Linked DNA regions of Homo sapiens: all the other regions are linked to region 2. The links come from fine-mapping of genetic effects on gene expression. A gene starts in region 2. Each other region holds a variant in brackets. All regions are shown on one strand. Distances are from middle to middle.

The links. PIP is the estimated chance that this variant, and not a neighbour inherited with it, causes the effect.
Region 1: its variant is fine-mapped to the expression of BLOC1S5 in whole blood (GTEx, PIP above 0.99).
Region 3: its variant is fine-mapped to the expression of BLOC1S5 in whole blood (INTERVAL, PIP above 0.99).

Annotation. Positions count from the first base shown.
Region 1 is chr6:8,017,584-8,020,083 of GRCh38, forward strand. All of the region lies in intron 4 of BLOC1S5 (biogenesis of lysosomal organelles complex 1 subunit 5), which reads right to left. The region is part of intron 4 of BLOC1S5-TXNDC5 (BLOC1S5-TXNDC5 readthrough (NMD candidate)); the gene reads right to left. All of the region lies in intron 6 of EEF1E1-BLOC1S5 (EEF1E1-BLOC1S5 readthrough (NMD candidate)), which reads right to left. Among named protein-coding and RNA genes, the nearest start is that of BLOC1S5, 46 kb to the right of the region's middle. The variant T/C (reference allele first, on the strand shown) is at 1,381.
Region 2 is chr6:8,063,307-8,066,131 of GRCh38, forward strand. It overlaps BLOC1S5 (biogenesis of lysosomal organelles complex 1 subunit 5), which reads right to left and starts at 1,083. Exons shown (of 5, transcript NM_201280.3): 1 at 959-1,083. The coding sequence starts at 1,070. BLOC1S5-TXNDC5 (BLOC1S5-TXNDC5 readthrough (NMD candidate)) reads right to left here and starts at 1,108. Exons shown (of 13, transcript NR_037616.1): 1 at 959-1,108. All of the region lies in intron 3 of EEF1E1-BLOC1S5 (EEF1E1-BLOC1S5 readthrough (NMD candidate)), which reads right to left. RefSeq lists enhancers at 291-917, 527-716, 2,407-2,506, 2,517-2,666.
Region 3 is chr6:8,111,066-8,113,920 of GRCh38, forward strand. No RefSeq gene overlaps it. Among named protein-coding and RNA genes, the nearest start is that of EEF1E1-BLOC1S5, 9.9 kb to the left of the region's middle. The variant A/G (reference allele first, on the strand shown) is at 1,672.

The DNA of each region.
Region 1 (2,500 bases), 46 kb before region 2:
TTCTCTCTCATTTGGGTCAGGATGACAAACAGGATGAAGGGCTGAATAAGCCAATGTGCTCTAAGTACCCATGAAATGCAAACTTCTGCTAGTTGTTTTGCATAGCTACTTCTAAAAGCCTCTCCTTTAAGACGACATTATTCTCATTTTACAGACAAAGAAATTAAGGCTTAAGGACACTTTTATCCTCCATGGTCACTCACCTAATAGCTTGGTTGTAGATTCAAATTTAGGTCTTTCTGACACCCAAACCTACGCCTTTTCTATCACAGAGTGCAAATCAGATCTTTCCAGAGGAAGTTTTACGTAGGTAGCTAAAAATCCCTTTCACAAGACAAACGGTCTTCTGAGAGTCTTTTTGCTAGGCTGATCTGAAGCTCCCCAGCACCAAGACTGTTCAACTTCAGACTCACGTCAACTTCTTTCCAATTGAAAATTCTTGGTCGAACATTCTTCTAAAATGTCAGTCAAACTTTGCTCTAAAATATGTCCTACGGACACTTGGGATCTGAACAGATATTACAGTGGTAGGGAGAGAGGATTAGGGAGGAGTTTACTCATCCAATAAATTGGTTAAACAGGTTAAACAAAATCCAATGCGTTACTTTTTAACTTTTCAGCCTTATAGATTAGAACTCTCCAAAAGATGCATGAAGAGTTTATTAAATCTTCTGATGGAACTTTTGCAAAAACTGTTACAGTCTAAGAGAAAAGCCACAGTCAGACTAGAAAAAGAAAAAATGCAGATAAACTTCATCAAAATGATATTTAGCTTTAGTTGTGTTTTAATAAATACAGAGAATGTTAAACATGCATACTCAGATGTTATTTAATTTGTTCATTTCTTTGTAAATGGAAAGTCATCATTGGCTCAGCTGACCTTGTGATGTGGATCACCAGGCAACAGCCCGTGTTCCCCTTCCCAACCAGAACGCATTTTATCCAGTACAGCCCAATAAAGAAAAACGGAGCTTTGGCAGGCATACCAACCTCGCTTCAAATTCTGGTCTACCTGTCACTAGTTGCATGATGCTGAGCAACTTAAAGTTTCTTTAACTTTAAAATGAGGAAAATAAATACTCCGCATCCATAAATAATATTTATAAAGACTACAGGTAGAACATGTCAAGTTCCTAGCTCAGTGCCTGAGGAACTTAATAAAAGGTAAATATTATACAAATCACAAGCGAAGCATCTAGAAGGCAGATCACTCCACTTTTATCCCCTTGCCATTTCAGTTTCTGTTCTTTAATTTTAATAATTTACTTTTAGCAACAGATTATTGTAATAATTCAAACAATAGAGACAACTCAAGAGCAAGAGACTTTCCCCTCCATTCCTAGATTCAATTTAATCCTGGATGTAACCATTATTAACCAT[T/C]TGGCTACAAGAACAGTCTTTAAGACGCTGCAATATATTAGTGAATAAGATACTGCCAAAGATCAGTATTTCTATTGTGTAGTTTCAGAATATTATGAATAAAGACAAACATATTCAAGTAGCCTGTTCACATCAGGCATATCGCTTATTGGCCTTGTAGGCCGAGTGAAAATAAGCTAAAAGATGACAACTTCCAAATCCAAATAAAAATCTAGTTTTGCTCCCTTATCAAGAAGTTCTTACAGTCACTCCACGCTATCGTTTCCTAGTTTCCCACTTGTAATAGTAACTGCTAGGCATTCTTACTTTTTTTTTTTTTTTTGAGATGGAGTTTCCCTCCTGTTGCCCAGGCTGGAGTGCAATGGCACAATCTTAGCTCACTGCAACCTCTGCCTCCCGGGTTCAAGCAATTCTCATGCCTCAGCCTCTCAAGTAGCTGGGATTACAGGCAACCACCACCACACCTGGACAATTTTTGTATTTTTAGTAAAGACAAGGTTTCACCACACTGGCCAGGCTGGTCTTGAACTCCTGACCTCAGGTGATCCGCCCACCTCCGCCTCCCAAAGTGCTGGGATTACAGGCATGAGCCACCGGCGCCCGGCCCATTCTTACATTCTTTACAACAATCAGTAAAGAAAAAAGGGGGGGGGGGCGCCTATACATTCATGTATTGACAATACTGCAGTCTTTACATACAAATAAAACCCAGCTACCTGGAAATAACATTTATCTGAACCTTAGTTGAGAATGTGCTAAGACCTTTAAGTCATGCAAACGAAGAAGATGCTACAAAGTCCATTTACAAATACTGCACATGAAAAGCCCTTCTGATTCCGAGCCTACTTGACCTACATTACATACAATTCTAACCAGCTTAGTTAACTGGTTTCTAAGACGACACCCTATGAAAAAGTCACAAGTTAGAAAATGAAAAGGCTGATAATAAGGGAAGAATAACAGGCATCAGCCTTATAGCAAAAGAGGAGGCAGATACAAAAACTTAAAACACACAGTATCTGAGGGCAGTTGGTACAGAAACATAGCACAGTGTCTCTCTTTCTCATTCCCTAATGACATCACCATATTCACCATAATATAAAATCTGATATTCTCAGTA
Region 2 (2,825 bases):
GTAAGTCTCTTTTTCATAAGTCTGAAAAAGTCATTAAGAAAAGGTCTGAATTTAAGTCTTTTGGTGAGTCAGTTTATTATTCTTCTTAGTTACAACTATGTAGTTTAAAATGTAAGTCTCAAAATTCCTTGAGAAATTAAATCTAAGACAATGTATTATTCATATTCATTCACTGGCAATGTTCCCCAAATTTTTCATTTTTGCAGACATACGATGGGCAGGTTTCAATTCTCTATTTTAATGAATTTTATTAGTACATATCTTCTTAAGCATGTCAAGTAGAAAAAATAATACAAGCACTGTATATAAGCACTTTATATCTGGTATATATAAAGCACTACAACTCAACTGTCAAAGACTTTCACGCAGCAAACAGCGTTGTGAGCTTTAGGAGTCAAACCTAAAGCAGATTCTGTGAGAATCTAGGTTGTAACCTTCTCCCAGCTCAAAGCACACAGAACACATGGACATTTCTGAACGTGAATGGTTCTTTACAGTGCTATAGAGCGCCTTCGTAAGTGTATCTCACTTACTCCTCGCACGACCAGGAACAGATCGGGTAGGAGAGTGAGTAAAGCCAGTGACCCGAAGTCACTCAACTCCTAAGCGACTGCCTCCCGCCTCCCAGGTCCAATGCCCTTTCCACTACACGTCGGTGGCGAGGCTGCCCAAAGGCTCTGCGCCCAGGGGTCCTGAGCTTGCGGAATGGACGGGGGCGGGCCTGATGGCTCAGGCTGCGACAGAGGAAAGCGGGGAAACACGAAGAGTTGGGCTGGTTGGTTGTGGTGGGACGCATTTGGCGCGGGGAAAAAGGCGGGGACCGACCACGACTCCCCCACCCGCACAAACGCACGCGCGCCAGCCCGGGACCCGGGGGTCGGCCCGGGTCAGAGGGCGCCGCCTGGGAGATGAGGCTGTGCTGGGATCCACCAGGAACTATAGCCCTGACACTCCGTACCCTTGATAATGAGGTGCGCTGAGCCCGCAGTCCCCAGGGAGTCCCTCTTCTTGCTGCCACCGCCCGGGGCGGCCTCACAACCCACAGGGGTCTCTGTCCCTCCGCCACTCATCCCGACCAGTTCCGCCCACCCGCGGCCACGCTGCGCCTGCGCAAACCCGGCCGCCCTCTTACAAGGCGCGCCCGGGTTTTTTTTGTGTGTGTGTCATTACAGGGCGCCGGAGAAATTTAATCTACCCAGCGGGCGGTTCCGGAAAGGCGCCTGCCGTGTAGTCAGGCTGTGAACTGGCAGAAGCTCTTGCCGCCATGCTGGATCAGGGCGGATGCTGCTAGAATAGGAAGGTGCTTGAACTTTGGAGCTAAACTCAGAGCCCTGGTTATTTGGCTCAAAGCTGGTGCATTCCAGTACAGTTGTCCTCCCATATCTGCTGAGAATACATTCCAAGACCCCCAGTAGATTCCTGAAACTGCATATAGTACTGAACCATGTATATACTATGTTTTTTCCTGTATATACATATGATAAAGTTTATAAATTAGGCACAGTAAGAGATGAACAATTAGAACAATTTAATAAAAGTTATGTGAATGTAGTCTCTCTCCCAAAATATCTTATTGTACCGTCCTGCGGGTAATGAAACCACAGAAAGTGAAACCTCAGATAAGGGGGGACTACTGTATAGCAAAGCCAATTAGCTGGGGGCTGTTTCCCTACTATGCCATGAGTGTGGCTGACTATTCCTGCCTTTCTTTTTAGACACCTGTTTCCTAGAATGCTTCTCTTGCTCCCTCTTTCTGTTCAAGTCAGTAAACTCACGTTGTATAATAAAGAATTTGACTGGACTTTGACTCTGGTTCCTGGGAGGTACCCTCAATCCTTAGAATTTCCCAAGTGATAGAAGTGTCTTTGTTATTCATGGTGGGCCTCTGGAAATACACCTGAGTTTATGCTAATGAGATGGCTCATGGAGGGCCCAAGATGATTTCAGAATGGAGGCTGGCCACACCAGAAGGGCCGGCCAACCATGAGGGCTTAGGCTTTGAGTCACATAAGCAGGCCCACCTCTGGGGAGCAGATTGGGGCTGGAGACTGAGTTCAGCCATGTGGCCAGTGATTTAACCAACTATGCCTACATAATGGAACCCCAGTGAGTACTCTGGATGTGGAAGCTCAGGTGAGCTTACTGGTCGATAATCATTCATCAAAGTGTCAGGAGGGGGAAGCGTTCCTGAGGACACGTAAGCTTCTATTTGGGAAATCTCCCACATCTCGCCCTATACATCTCTTCATTTGGCTGGTCCTGATATGTGTCCTTTATAATAAAACTGTAATAGCAAGGAAAGCACTTTCTTGAGTTCTATGAGTCATTCTGTGAAACCTGAGGGAGTAAAGCGAATAGCAATGAAACATCATGTGTAGAGAGAAGCTGCGTGGGTGAGAACTGAGGCACCCTAGCAGACAGTGCTCAGGCCCTGGGCATATGACAGAGACAGCTGGTCAGAAGTGCAGGTGGCCTGGGAACCCCAAAGCTTGTGGCAGGTGTCTGAAGGGGAGTCTTGAGGAGGACCATGCTTTGACCTCTGAAGTCTGTGCTAACTTCGGATAGCACTGCAGTTTAACAAACACTTACATGGCACTTGCTACATGCCAGGTAATACTGTAAGTGGTCTACAAATTTGCATTCATTTAATCCTCATGGCCGGCCTTTGAAGTAGTTATTATTAATGTCCTCATTTACAGACGAGGAGGCTGAGGCACAGAGAGGTTAAATGACTGCCTGACTTGTATGTGGCAGAAACAACTGCCTCTGTGTCTCTGTGTATGTGTTTAAGCATAGGTGGTGGGTGAAGAGAGAGTGGGGAAGGG
Region 3 (2,855 bases), 48 kb after region 2:
CATTTCTGTCCAGATCTCATTGGCTGAAACTCAGTCAGGAAGACACACCTGGCTAAAGGGAGGCTGAGTGAAGTGATCTGATCCGTCAGTCTGCTTGTTATTCTGCACCTGTGCCCCAGTTTTATTCCCATTCTCCTTGGCCCTGCTCTTTGACACAGAAGACTGAGTCTGTGGATGACATTACCCAGAGTCTCCTACCTTCTGGCTTCCAGATAGGTTCAGTGTGAGAGGCACAGTTAAGAGATTGGAGAGCATGAGTTTGGAGTATTTATTGCCTTTCTCCCTTCCTGCATTTGGCTGTGCAGTAGAGTCTGACTCCGTTTGTGATGTTTGACTGTTCACAGCATTTAGGCCTCCATCCACCCTTGCCCTGCCCACCATCATACATCTGGGACTTCATGTAAGGAACTCCCCACCCCAAGCTCCTGACCTCTTGATGTTTGAACCCCACAGCTTCATGACAGCTTGCACCTGCCCTTCCCCAGAAGTGCTCTGTGTGTTAGTAATAGACTTTCTTTCTTACCCTCTTGGTGCATGAAGGAGGGTCATTAGTCTCCATATCTGATCTATTGATTGGGAGGAAGTCTGTACCCTATTGGTGGAATGACCAGAAAACAGGCTGTGTTATCTGAGAGCAGTTGGTAACCTAGAAGTGGTAATGGCTTTCTATTCTCGCTAGTCCCTGGGCACCTCAACTTCCCGGATTGATTTTCTTAATCCTTTCCATGCTTCTATATCTAGTCCTTTCTTTAGAGCCTCTTGAAACATCAGAGTTAGATTCTGTTTCCTGCAGGAAACCTGATGGATATGGGAAGAAGAGGGAAGTGGTCTGGTGAGCATTTAGTCAGTTGCTGCAACATTATGATCAGTGCCAATTTTTAAGTTTAATCCTTGGCTTTCAGCGAATGTGGATATATATGGTCAACATTATTTGTCTTATATAAATGCACTAGCATATATAATACATATACTGATGAAAGTAGATGGACTTTTATGAGGAACTTTAGTAGATGAGGGTCTTTTTCACATTGAAAAATTTTGCTTTCAGGCTTTTTTTGAGATTAAAATGGCATTTGAACATTGGGATGAAGACTACTCATCTGAAACTGGGCTTTGGCTAACTGGGCACAAACATGCTTTATATAAATTTTCACTGTAGGGTCCAAAGTAGTTCTTTTTTTATTTTTTTATTTTTTGGGGACAGGGTCTTACTCTGTGGCCCAGGCTGGAGTGCAGTGTCACAGTCTCGGCTCAGTGCAGCCTCTGCCTCCCAAGTTCAAGCAATTCTTCCACCTCAGCCTCCCGAGTAGCTGGGATTACAGGGCCATGCCACCACACCCAGCTAATTTTTGCATTTTTAGTAGAGACGGGGTTTCACCATGTTGTCCAGGCTGATCTCGAACTCCTGACCTCAGGTGATCCAGCCCCCCCCAAACCCCCTTCAGGCTCCCAAAGTGTGGGATTACAGGCATGAGCCACCACTCTCAGCCGGCCCAAAGTAATTTTCAGTGAAGGGGTACTGCTGTAAAAATGAGTCTGCAAACTAGATGCCCTTCCTCCTCCAATTCATCCTGCTGAGATGCACATAGATGTGTGTGTCTTAGAATCAGCTGATGCTGGGAATAGGTCCCTTGTTATTAAGGAGGAAGATGCCAAGGGAGTCAGGAGGAG[A/G]GAGGTGTGTTCCTACAGTGCTGCGTGGAATTCTGCAGATGACCTAGCTGCTCCTGTCTTACTGTCAGTTTCTGCAGTCAAATCAGGCAGTTGTAACTTGCGTTTCTCTACTTTCTTTGATTTCATATCAAGCATCCTGCAAATTGGTGGGCATTTTTCAAATTCCCTTAAAGTTTGTGAACAAGCATCTCCAAGGAGCACTTGCCATCTCTGTGCCTGATTTGTGTATGCTCACTGGCTTGCAGCTTTTCCCAGGTTCTCTGGTGTTAAATTAATAACAAATGATGTAGAGCTGACAGGCAGGTGAAACTGGGGAGAACCATGATATTAAAAAAAAATCTCAGTCTATTATGTAGCACAATGTGCAACACTTCGTCAGATTTTGCCTGCAGGTATCTTAATTTTGCTTAAATATTTTGCTCATATCTTTTTAACCCAGAAGATGGGAACGTAGCCCTTAACATCTCTCAAGCAGACTGTGTAGCATATGTTAGTGTGATACAGAATACCAAACTCTGCCAGCTATTTGGCATTCTTTGAAAAGGCACTAGATAAAATAAAAATAAAGAAGATAAAAATACTTTCATGGTGGAGGAATTGTCTGATTCCCACTCGAAGTTATAAGGCGCATATTTTGGATCAATATAAACATTATTTTCTCACAGACAGAGCTATCCAACTGTGACTGCCTCAAAGTTAGAGTACTCTTTGTCATTGCAAGTATTTAAGAAATTGGAGATCATCTGCCAAGATTCTTTGGAAATGATTCGTTGCAAGTATGCAAAATATTGGAAGAATACTTTGCAGTTTTAAACTACATACATTCAATCTGCTTTACATATTAAATTTCAATGTAATCTTTTAAAAATACTATGGAAAATTAATATACACACAAGTAGGGATAATAACATAATGAACCCTTATTACTGATTACCCAATTTCAGCAATGAGAACATTTATTTTAAAGAACAGTGCCACTGCTAAAAACAAATTTAGAAGCTTCTGGATTGGATGATGCCTGAAGTCCCCCAAATTCTATTTTATGGGCAATATAAGGGTCAGCCAAAAAGTGAACACCACTCAATGTCCATCATCTGATAATGAATAAACATAGTATGTCCATACAAGAGTAGATGTAGCATAATTTTTTTTTTTTTGAGACGGAGTCTCGCTCTGTCACCCAG